Linked DNA regions of Homo sapiens. The protein of the gene in region 1 purifies or fractionates together with the protein of each later gene. This does not show direct contact. Each region holds a gene or a part of one and is shown in the gene's direction. Other genes may lie near its edges.

Evidence for each region.
Region 2: the proteins of MPDU1 (region 1) and QRICH2 purify together in Homo sapiens (affinity purification with mass spectrometry; one large-scale study listed by BioGRID and IntAct). This does not show direct contact.
Region 3: the proteins of MPDU1 (region 1) and CLN6 purify together in Homo sapiens (co-immunoprecipitation; one large-scale study listed by IntAct). This does not show direct contact.

Annotation. Positions count from the first base shown.
Region 1 is NC_000017.11:7,582,283-7,586,653, forward strand, and holds the start of MPDU1 (mannose-P-dolichol utilization defect 1 protein), read left to right. Parts: upstream 1-1,569; 5' UTR 1,570-1,580; coding exon 1,581-1,683; exon of another isoform or gene 1,684-1,810; intron 1,811-3,449; coding exon 3,450-3,515; intron 3,516-3,663; coding exon 3,664-3,796; intron 3,797-4,371. UniProt on the Homo sapiens protein: Required for normal utilization of mannose-dolichol phosphate (Dol-P-Man) in the synthesis of N-linked and O-linked oligosaccharides and GPI anchors.
Region 2 is NC_000017.11:76,277,277-76,280,776, reverse strand, and holds part of QRICH2 (glutamine-rich protein 2), read left to right. Parts: intron 1-48; coding exon 49-123; intron 124-325; coding exon 326-490; intron 491-622; coding exon 623-744; intron 745-1,348; coding exon 1,349-1,414; intron 1,415-1,634; coding exon 1,635-1,736; intron 1,737-2,587; coding exon 2,588-2,788; intron 2,789-3,466; coding exon 3,467-3,500. UniProt on the Homo sapiens protein: Has an essential role in the formation of sperm flagella and flagellar structure maintainance. It acts as a suppressor of ubiquitination and degradation of proteins involved in flagellar development and motility.
Region 3 is NC_000015.10:68,219,687-68,223,400, reverse strand, and holds part of CLN6 (ceroid-lipofuscinosis neuronal protein 6), read left to right. Parts: intron 1-3,714.

The DNA of each region.
Region 1 (4,371 bases):
GCTGCTCCAGTTCCCCATCCGTGGCAAGCCGGTAGAGCCATTCATCCCCGCAGCCTTCTTCCTGACCCTCGTACAGTTTCAAATGCAGCAGACAGCCAAAGCAATGAGTGGGGGGCTGTGGAACTTCATTCCCAAAGGCAGCGCCAGTGGCTCCTGAGCAATGAGAATGTCCTGTCCTGTCCACCATATTCAAGGCCAGCAGAAGAGCCCGATTAAACCCTCGCAGCACCTGGCATGCTCCTATCCCACCTACAAGGGGTTGAATCAAGAAGGAGCAGTGGGTACTCTGACCTCCACTGGGGGCTCCTGGGAACAGCATGCCCCCCACACGGGGCCACCTGCCAAGCCTAACTTCATGCCCCCAGTACTTGAGATGAGGAGTGTCACTCTCAGGACAGCCAAGGTCCAGATTCCAGAAAGGACCTCCCAGATGGCCACAGCCTGCACCAGCAGTGAGCGCCAGTCCCACCCATTACAGCTGGCTACGGCGCAATCCCTGGGAGCCAGGATGAGCAGCACCCCCCAGCCGTAGGAGCCCCAGGAGGCTTCCGGCCTCCAAGGCCCAGAGACTGCCCCACAAGGGCAGCCCTCACCTGGCAGGGCCCCAGCAGCCCCACCTCTGCCTGCAGACATCCGTGTGACCTTGTAGACTTTGGAGGGGGGCCGCCAAAGGGCTGATCCACAGCGGAATGACGCACGGGTGGGCACCGTGGGTTGGCGTCCCGGCGGTCGGTAACGAAGCACAACGCCCCCACCAGGTAGTCCAAGGTGCCCTTTCCCAAGCAGCGCTGCAGGGTCCACTCGGCCTCGCCGAAGTCTCTGCCCAGCACGTGGTGCGCCCTCGGGCCAGCGGGGAGGGGGCGAATCCCGGGACTGCCTCGCCAGGCCTCGGCTCCCCGGAGACTCTTGGGGGTCTGGGCCCCAAGGGTGATTCAGGTGCTGCCCTTCCCCGACCTGGGCTCGCCTCCCCCACCTCCTCCTCTGCTTCACTGTCCCGGGCCCAGCAGTTGCCGGCGCACTCATGCTCCGAGGCCTGAGCCAACCGGAGGCGAGACAAGCACAGGGCCCTGCGCGCAACCCGGCACCTAAGGAGGCCTGCCCGGTGCAGACTCTCCTGCTCCCACCGGCGCCCTTCCCTCTAGAGACGCTGAGAGAACGGGAGCTAGTAGCGCCCCCACCCAACGCCACCTCGGAGACTCCGGCTCCTTCTCTCTCAACTTCGAACAATACAAAGTGTGCTAGGAGAAGACAAGATGGCGCCCAGCAGGAGGAGCGGAGAAAGGCAGGGGTGTAAATCTGGCTTCCAAACTGGAAGCGTCAACAAAGGCGTGGGAGGTCTAACCGCGCAGGCGTGCAGCTTCGGCAAGCTTTACAATTCCAACAGCGCGTCCAAAACGTGGTCCCTGACTGAGACTTATTTTACGCCACTAGAGTGAGGGTGGGTAGCGTCAGAAAGAGCGGGGCACGGGGCGGGCCAGCTTCGCCGCGGGAAAAGAACGGGAGGCGGAGTGTCCGCAGCGCGCACGCGCAACGAAAGTCAATGGCGGTCTGGAGAGACTGGCGGAAGCTAGCTTTGCAATATGGCGGCCGAGGCGGACGGACCGCTTAAACGGCTGCTCGTGCCGATTCTTTTACCTGAGAAATGCTACGACCAACTTTTCGTTCAGTGGGACTTGCTTCACGGTGAGTTTTATTCAGCATCCGATCCAAGTCCTACTCGAGTGACCGTGGGCCCTTAGTCCAAGCCTTGATCGGCGACTAAGTGACGGCAGTGACTGCCGCCATGCCGAGCTGGACGGAAGTCACTTCTGAGAAGGGCGGAAGTGTCTCGGGCTCCTTAGAGGGAGGACACCATATTAGTGCCAGTGGGGAAGTCACCGGGTGGAATTACTTCTTTGTGGAGTTTGTGCTGTAGCGACAATGAAAAACGAAGAGTCAACTTTTATAAAACAAAATAAAAATTAAGTCAAATCATGCCAACCTTTATTAGATCGCTAGCAGGGTTAAACTTAATTCAAAGCCCCTGATGAATCGGGCCTTCATTGCACCCCCAAAGGCTCCGCCACCCTGATTGCTTTCTTTCCAGCCTCCAGGTTTGCTCATAGTCTGATTTCGGAATAATTTGCCTCCCTTCCTTTTTCTGATTGCGAGACAGCTCCACAAGGGTCACCGTCAGACCGTTTGGGGAGCGTCAGTCTGCCCCTGTCAGTTCATGGTACCTCTCTTGAGCTCGTGGGGCACTTTGTTTTAGCCGCATTCATGACCCGTGAGAGTCAGACTCCCACTAGACCAAGTTCCTTGAGGGGAAGGCTTCAAGGCTAGAGAAGTTGTGGATGGCCAGGGCATAAAAGCAAGCCTTGAAAGGGTAAGGTTTAGTCCCTGAGTAGGGGCCAGGGACAGTCAGAGTGTTCAAGAAAGAGTGGTATGGGGCGGGCACGGTGGCTCACGCCTGTAATCCCAGCACTTTGGGAGGCCGAAGCGGGTGGATCACCTGAGGTCAGGCGTTCGAGACCAGCCTGGCCAATAGGGCGAAACCCCGCCTCTACTAAAAATACAAAAAATTAGCCGGGCGTTGTGGCAGGCGCCTGTAATCCCAGCTACTCGGGAGGCTGAGGCAGGAGAATCGCTTAAACCCGGGAGACAGAGGTTACAGTGAGCCAAGATCGTGCCATTGCACTCCAGCCTGGGCAACAAGAGTGAAACTCCGTCTCAAAATTAAAATAAGAAAAAAAAAATGGTATGAAGACTTGTCTTTGGAGAGAGAAGACATGTGAAATGGGGCACCCATTGGCCCAGAGAAGGGAAATAAAGGATCAGAGAGCTCTTGGGCATTTCTCAGCTTTATATGGGGAAGCAATGGAGAGCCGTGGAGGTCAAGCCAAGTTTGGGTGTTAATTTATAGGGAATGGAAGATTGGATGTGGGGGGTGGTAGGCATCGGAGAAAAGCTGTTTTGGAAAGTAACAGTCTGGGGCCCGGTGCGGTAGCTCGAGCTTATAATCCCAGCACTTTAAGGAGGCTGAGGCAGGTGGATCATCTGAGGTCAGGAGTTCGAGACCAGCCTGGCCAACATGGTGAAACCCTGTCTCTACTAAAAACACAAAAATTAACCGGGCATGGTGGTGTGTGCCTGTAATTCTAGCTACTTGGGAGGCTGAGACAAGAGAATTGCTTGAACCCAAGAGGCAGAGGCTGCAGTGGGCTGAGATTGGGCCACTGCACTCCAGCCTGGGTGACAGAGCAAGACTCTGTCTCCAAAAAAAAAAAAAAGTGTGGTGGTTTGGAGCAGGAAGGACCAGGACTTTCTCACTGCCCTCCGCCTCTCCTCCCCCCAAGACAATGCAAGACCCTGGTGTGGGTAAGGGGGCTCGGGGAGAGCCCACAGGAGCTTCAAGCCCTGGCCTGGGTTTCAGACATCTCCTGTCTGCTTACCCTTTTTTCTCTCCTCAGTCCCCTGCCTCAAGATTCTCCTCAGCAAAGGCCTGGGGCTGGGCATTGTGGCTGGCTCACTTCTAGGTATGTCTCTTATCTTTCTTTCCAGCTGTTGGGTTGGGGTGGAGGTGCTGAGAGGCCATCAACTGTGTGGGTGTTCGTTCTATAGCTGTTGTGTTGCATCCCAAAGAATGGAGAGTCCTCAGTCCTACTTTTCTCATCTTTCCCCTAGTAAAGCTGCCCCAGGTGTTTAAAATCCTGGGAGCCAAGAGTGCTGAAGGGTTGAGTCTCCAGTCTGTAATGCTGGAGCTAGTGGCATTGACTGGGACCATGGTCTACAGCATCACTAACAACTTCCCATTCAGGTGAGGGGCCCACCCTTCCACCCCAAGGGTAATACCCACAACTCTAATGGGGATTAAGGTGAAGGAGGTTACAAGGCAGCAAAGTGGCCGGGCCCAGTGGCTTGCACCTGTAACCCCAGCACTTTGGGAGGCCGAGGCGGGTGGATCACCTGAGGTCAGGAGTTCGAACTGGCCAACATGGTGAAACCCCGTCTCTACTAAAAATACAAAATTAGCTGGGTGTGGTGATGGGCACCTGTAATCCCAGCTACTTGGGAGGCTGAGGCAGGAGAATCACTTGAACCTGGGAGGCAGAGGTTGCAGTGAGCCAAGATTGCGCCACTGCACTCCAGCCTGGGCAACAAGAGCGAAACTCAGTCTTAAAAAAAAAAAAAAGGGACAAGGGGCTAGGAAAGTTTTAAGCCCTTTTAGAAACCTAATCATCACCAGTGGAGGTGATCTTGAGAAGGGGTGAGCATCCCGAGAATGGCCACGATTCAGAATGAGCCAGTCCCGTGTGGGGGCTGTAGAGAAGCGTGATCAGAGCATAGTGTCCCTGGATGGATGGGCTATGGAGGCTTTCCCTGCCTCTTTCT
Region 2 (3,500 bases), about 69 Mb from region 1:
CCCCGCAGCTGCTGGCTCTTTTTTTCTCTGTTCACTTGGCCTCCCCAGATGCTGTACCAGGGTCTGGAGAAGCTCGAAAAGGAAAAGGCCAACAGGGAGCACCTGGAGATGGAGATCGATGTGGTGGGTGCCAGGCCCCAGGAGCCACGCTGTGTCCCAGGGCGGTCTCGCTGACTGTTCTTTGAGAGACTGAGTGGAGGGGAGCTGGCGAGACGAGTGTGGGCTCTCAGAAACCTGCCTGGTGATAGGGGTCGACACCCCCAGGGAATGGGGCCCCTCCATGGCCATCTCCCAGATGCGGGGACCTCTGTCTGTCTCTGGGCAGAAAGCCGACAAGAGTGCTCTGGCCACCAAAGTGAGCCGTGTCCAGTTTGATGCCACCACGGAGCAGCTGAACCACATGATGCAGGAGCTGGTGGCCAAGATGAGCGGGCAGGAGCAGGACTGGCAGAAGATGCTGGACAGGCTGCTCACAGAGATGGACAACAAGGTGAGGCAGGGGCATGGCGGGGCTCTCCATCCCACAGCCTTGCCCCCAGGATCGGGACAGCACCACCTTCTCCTGGGTCAGCCCCCTACCTGCTTCCTTAGAGGTCCCCTGGCCCCTCTTTCCCCGCCACAGCTGGACCGCCTGGAGCTGGACCCAGTGAAGCAGTTGCTGGAGGATCGGTGGAAATCGCTGCGACAGCAGCTCAGGGAGCGCCCCCCACTCTACCAGGCAGACGAGGCGGCTGCCATGCGGAGGTGAGGCCTGGGAGGCAGGGGAGGAGGCTGGCACGCTCTTCAGGGGGTGAGGGCAGAGGGGGCTGGGGGTCTCCAGACAAACAGCTCCTGCCAGCACACAGCGGATCCTGCCCAGGACTGTCCCATGGTTGGAGGGACAGAATTTTAGAGCTTGAAACGCTCTTCTAGCTCAGGCCCCTTCGTATTACAGCAGAGAAAGGGAGGAGGGGAGGCTTAAGGCTCTCAGGGTTTGGCTGAGCTAAGCTGGGCCTTTGGGACAGGGAGAGGTCCTCAGTACCCAGAGCTGAGACAGCTCCTGGGGGCCTGGCCCATAGGACCTGGCCCGTGGTAGGCTTGAATTCCAGGATTCCCATTCGTGGCCGCCAGGGGGCGCCCGAGACTTGCACAGGGCACCCTCAGGGGCCCATGGGAAGCCTGCTGGCTTTGGGTTAGGACAGGGAGGTCTGGGATGTGAGCCCAGAGGTGGGAGCAGATGGATTCCTGGGGAGCAGGGACATGATCTGCACCCTGGTGGGCTGAGCTTCCAGGGGCCTGCAGAGCCCCAAGCCCTTCTGGGTCTTCCGGGCAGAGCACTCACCCTGCGTGTGCGTCCCATTCCTAACAGGCAGCTCCTGGCACATTTCCACTGCCTCTCATGTGACCGGCCCTTGGAGACACCTGTGACTGGACAGTGAGTGCCCACACCGCCGGCACGTGGCCTCGCATGGCAGGGCTGCGTCTCCTCCCTTCACCTGTGTCCACCTGTCCTCTCCCTTTCTTTCATGTGTCTGCTTCCAGCCCTCGCTCCCTTCCAGGCCGGGGGCGGGTGGGAAGGTTCTTTAGGCAGGTGGATTTGGGGGACCGGACTTGTCCCACTCTGACCCGCCCCTTCTCCCTCTGTCCCTGCCCAGTGCCATCCCCGTGACCCCCGCGGGTCCAGGCCTACCTGGGCACCATTCCATCCGCCCCTACACGGTGTTTGAACTGGAGCAGGTCCGGCAGCATAGCCGCAAGTATGCTATGGGACAGCATATGGGACATATGGGTCCGGGGCCAGGGCTCTGGATGGGGAAGGCAGGGGACAGGGATGACTCCGGAGGGCCCAGCGGAACGTGACAGAAGGCAGTGCTGTGGGACAGTGTGGAGAGCCTCCTCCTTGGAATGGGACAGTGGGGGCCGCAGGCCGATTTCTGAACTAGCTCCCTGGCAGTTCCCAAGGCATGAGCGTAGGAGGCAGACCTAGTCACACCTGCTTTTGGGAGTTACGGTGGGACTTCGTCAAGGGCGCCAGCTGCCTCTGAGAGCTCCTCTACTTCTCAACCTCTTCCTCAGCCTTCGGCTGTCTCAGCAACCCCGGGATTAGAGCGGTGGGGGGAGGGTCCGGTATAGCTCAGCCAGAGGGTGGGCTCAGCCAACGAAGGAGGCTGGCGGTGGGCATCTCATGCTCCCTCCGGCTCCTGCCCACCTCTCTGCTGCTCCCCTTCTCCTAAGGATGGGAGTCCATAGTTCAGAGGACTTCAGGCTGCTCTTGGAGCCCTGTGGGTTCCAGGTATGCTAGGCCAGGTGCGCCGAGATGGGAAGGCCCGGGGCTGCCCTCAGCTCCTCCACCCACAGCTGCAGACAGGCAGCAGGGCTTTCTTCCATTTGGCTGGCCTGCACTTCCCCATCTGAGGAAAGCCTTCCCGGCAAGTCTGGCCCTCAGATGCTGTGGAAAGGACTACTGCTGAGGGGTCAAGCTGCCCAGCGACCCCCAGCCTAGCTGGGTCCTGCACAAAAGGGACCCGGAACTGAAGGATTCGGCTTACACAAGGTCAAGGCCCCCGCCATGGGCCAACCCTCCCTCTGTTCTGCTCACACCCTGCAGCCTCAAGCTGGGCAGCGCCTTCCCTCGGGGTGACCTGGCGCAGATGGAGCAGAGCGTGGGGCGCCTGCGCTCCATGCACTCCAAGATGCTGATGAACATTGAGAAGGTGCAGATCCACTTCGGGGGCTCCACCAAGGCCAGCAGCCAGATAATCCGCGAGCTGCTGCACGCCCAGTGCCTGGGCTCCCCCTGCTACAAACGGTACAGGAGAGGCGGGCGAGGCCATGGGAGCAGGCACCCAGTGACCAGGCTTGGCTTCTGCTCGTGCACGGCTGTGCAAATGCCTTGCCCCACTGCTGGGGGAGAAAAGGGAGTGTGTGTGTGTGAGAGAAAGTGTGGGCGAGGGGTGTTAGTGTGTGTGATGTGTGTAAGCCATGTGTCTATGGGTGTGTCAATGTATGAGTGTGTGTAAGGGTGTGTGTGTATGAGTGCGTGTGTGTATGAGTGTGGGAGTGAGTGCGTGAGTGTGGGTGTTTGAGTATGTGTGTGCATGTATGAGTACGTGTGTATGAGTACGTGTGTGTGTGTGCATGTGTATGAGTATGTATGTATATGTTCGTGTGTATGTGCATCTTCGTGTGTATGTGCATAAGTATGTGTGTGTGCATGTATGTGTGTGTGTGACTGTGTGTATGAGTACATGTGTGAGTGTGTGGGTGTGTGTGTGCACGCCTGCCCATGTGCACAGTCACTGGGGTGGCCCGGCCTCACGGCTGCTCTACCCCCGCCCGCCTGTTCTGGGCCCCTGCTGCTCAGCCTCCCGGCAGCCCCCGAAGAGAAGCTGTGCCCCTTCCCTCTGGTCAGCCCCATGGGTGGGTGAGTCCCAGGTGACATCCCTGGTGGTCTGCTCCCAATGACTCCATCCTGTCTTCATCACAGGGTGACAGATATGGCTGATTACACCTACTCAACT
Region 3 (3,714 bases), on another chromosome or scaffold:
TCGTCTCAGACCACTGAGCAGTCCTCAGGGTTACTGGCTATCTGTCCAGTCTGAAGATCGAGCCGCCCGTCCCTTCTCTTTCTCTGGCTCCAGTAAGCCAGGCATCTCAGCTCCATGCAGAACCTTCTTCACTTCCACCTCCAGGCCTTTACCCTGCTTTCCTGCTTTTCTGCCTAGTTAGATTCATCCATCCGTGCTTTGAGGCTCCCTTCCCTCATGCAAGCTTTGTGTATTGCCCTAGGCCACGCTGATCCTTTTCTTTTTTTTTTTCAGTATTTATTGATCATTCTTGGGTGTTTCTCAGAGAGGGGGATGTGGCAGGGTCATAGGATAATAGTGGAGAGAAGGTCAGCAGATAAACACGTGAACAAAGGTCTCTGGTTTTCCTAGGCAGAGGACCCTGCAGCCTTCCTCAGTGTTTATGTCCCTGGGTACTTGAGATTAGGGAGTGGTGATGACTCTTAACGAGCATGCTGCCTTCAAGCATCTGTTTAACAAAGCACATCTTGCACCACCCTTAATCCATTTAACCCTGAGTGGACACAGCACATGTTTCAGAGAGCACGGGGTTGGGGGTAAGGTTATAGACTAACAGCATCCCAAGGCAGAAGAATTTTTCTTAGTACAGAACAAAATGGAGTCTCCTATGTCTACTTCTTTCTACACAGACACAGTAACAATCTGATCTCTCTTTCTTTTCCCCACATTTCCCCCTTTTCTTTTTGACAAAACTGCCATCGTCATCATGGCCCATTCTCAATGGTCGCTGTCTCTTCGGAGCTGTTGGGTACACCTCCCAGACCGGGCGGCCGGGCAGAGGCACTTCTCACTTCCCAGACGGGGCGGCTGGGCAGAGGCGCTCCTCACTTCCCAGACGGGGCGGCCAGGCAGAGGTGCTCCACACCTCCCAGACGGGGCGGCCGGGCAGAGGCGCTCCTCACCTCCCAGACGGGGCGGCCGGGCAGAGGCGCTCCTCACATCCCAGACGATGGGCAGCCGGGCAGAGACGCTCCTCACCTCCCAGACGGGGCGGCCGGGCAGAGGCGCTTCTCACCTCCCAGACAGACGATGGGCAGCCAGGCAGAGGCGCTCCTCACTTCCTAGACGGGGTGGCGGCCAGGCAGAGGTGCTCCTCACTTCCCAGATGGGGCGGCCAGGCAGAAGGGCTCCTAACCTCCCAGACGGGGCGGCTGGGCAGAGGTGCTCCTCACCTCCCAGATGGGGCGGCCGGGCAGAGGGGCTCCTCACCTCCCAGACGGGGCGGCCGGGCAGAAGGGCTCCTCACATCCCAGACGGGGCGGCCGGGCAGAGGGGCTCCTTACTTCCCAGACGGGGTGGCCGGGCAGAGGCGCTCCTCACATCCCAGACGATGGGCAGCCGGGCAGAGGCGCTTCTCACCTCCCAGACAGGGCAGCCGGGCAGAGGGGCTCCTCACTTCCCAGACGGGGCAGCTGGGCAGAGGCGCTCCTCACTTCCCAGACGGGGCGGCCGGGCAGAGGCGCTCCTCACATCCCAGACGATGGGCAGCCAGGCAGAGGCGCTCCTCACTTCCTAGACGGGGCAGCTGGGCAGAGGCGCTCCTCACTTCCCAGACGGGGCGGCCGGGCAGAGGCGCTCCTCACATCCCAGACGATGGGCAGCTGGGCAGAGGCGCTTCTCACCTCCCAGATGGGGTGGCCGGGCAGAGGGGCTCCTCACATCCCAGACGATGGGCGGCCAGGCAGAGACGCTCCTCACTTCCTAGATGGGGTGGCGGCCGGGCAGAGCCTGTAATCTTAGCACTTTTGGAGGCCAAGGCAGGCGGCTGGGAGGTGGAGGTTGTAGCGAGCCGAGATCACGCCACTGCACTCCAGCCTGGGCAACATTGAGCATTGAGTGAGCGAGACTCCGTCTGCAATCCCAGCACCTCGGGAGGCCGAGGCGGGCAGATCACTCGAGGTCAAGAGCTGGAGACCAGCCTGGTCAACACGGCGAAACCCCGTCTCCACCAAAAATACAAAAACCAGTCAGGTGTGGCGGCGTGTGCCTGCGATCCCAGGCACTCGGCAGGCCGAGGCAGGAGAATCACGGGAGCCCGAGGCAGGGAGGTTGCAGGGAGCTGAGATCACGGCAGTACAGTCCAGCCTCAGCAACAGAGGGAGAAGGAAGAAGCGAGGGAGAGGGGGAGGGTTGGGGGAGGGGGGAGGGAGATCCCTTTCTAACCTGATCTCCTGATAAGCCTAGTAATCAAAAACAGAATAGCAAGCTGTTGGCCAGACATGGTGGCTCACAGCTGTAATCCCAGCACTATGGATGGCTGATGTGGGTTGATTATTGAGCCCAGGAATTTGAGGCCAGCCTGGGCAACATAGTGAGACCTCATCTCTACAAAAAATAATAATAATAATAATAATAATAATAAAATAAAATTAGCTGGGCATAGTGGCATGCACCTGTGGTCCCAGTTACTCAGGAGACTGAGGTGGAAGGAATGCTTGAGCCTGGGAGGCCAAGGCTGCAGTGAGCTGTGATCACACCACTGTACTCCAGCCTAGGTGACCCTGTCTCCAAAAAACAAAACAAAAAAACAGAATAGCAAGCTATTAAGAGCACAGGTCTTGAATTAACATAAACCCAGGTTTGAATTGTGTGTGTTATTCAGGACGACTGGGTTGCAAGTGACAGAAAGCCAGTGTGAACTGCACCATCCTTAGCAAAAAGGAATGTGTTGGCTCATATGGCCAGATCATGAACTGGCAACATGAACACTGTCAGCACTTTTTCTCCCCCTTTCCCTGATCCTCTCTGCGAGGCTACTTCATTCTTACCTGGATGTCCCTTGAGGGTGGAACCTTGGCTGTAGGCAGTCCTGGGCTTGCACCCTTAGAACCCAGCACTATAAAGGAAGGAGCTCTTTTCCTCACCTGCAGTTGGAAAAGTCCCACTGGGCCAGTCTAGATCACTGGCCCTTCCTGTGGCTAAGAAAATATCATGTCTTACCAGAAGAAGCAGTGGGTGGGAAATAGGCTGACAAAAGGAATTGTTGCCACAGCTCCTTACTACACGGGTGGCTTTGGCTAAGCACCTAATCCCTCTAAGCCTCAGTATCCTCATCTGTAAAGCAGATGCGTGGATTAGATGAGATAGTGCAGGTAAAGACCTAGCATTGCACATAGTTGGTGTTCAGTGAGGGGGTGGAAGATACCGAGTAGAGGGGACAGGAAGACTTAGCTGACCTAGGGAAGGCCTACCCAACCTGTCTTGCCTGCCACTAGAAAATGAGATTTCTCCCAAGAGCTTGCCTCCCTGTCCTGGGGTACTCTACCAGCCAGTATGGATCATCCTTGGAACTGGCAGGAAGGGATCTCAGAAAATTAGGGAAGCAACAGCAGTATCGACAGAAGACAGTCTTTGCAGTGCCTCTAAGCTAATGTTTGCCACTACAAAAGGAGTAACTGGTCGTTGTGACTGTTTTAATCAGCCAGTAGTTGCTGAGCATGGACCAGGGCCTGAGCTCAGAACTCTGGAGGAATACAGATTTGTGGTCCATGGCGCCTGTTCTTGGCACAAACGAGACGATGAAACCCACACCTCAGTCCTCTTAGGATGTGGCTGGCTGCTTGTCCCTGGAGGTGTGCAAGTAATTGCAGGGACTCTGTAAAGAGGATTTGGACTCTGATAGGGAGGTGGGTGAGTTGGGAGAACCTTAAAGGTCACCCCTGTTCTCGAGGGTCT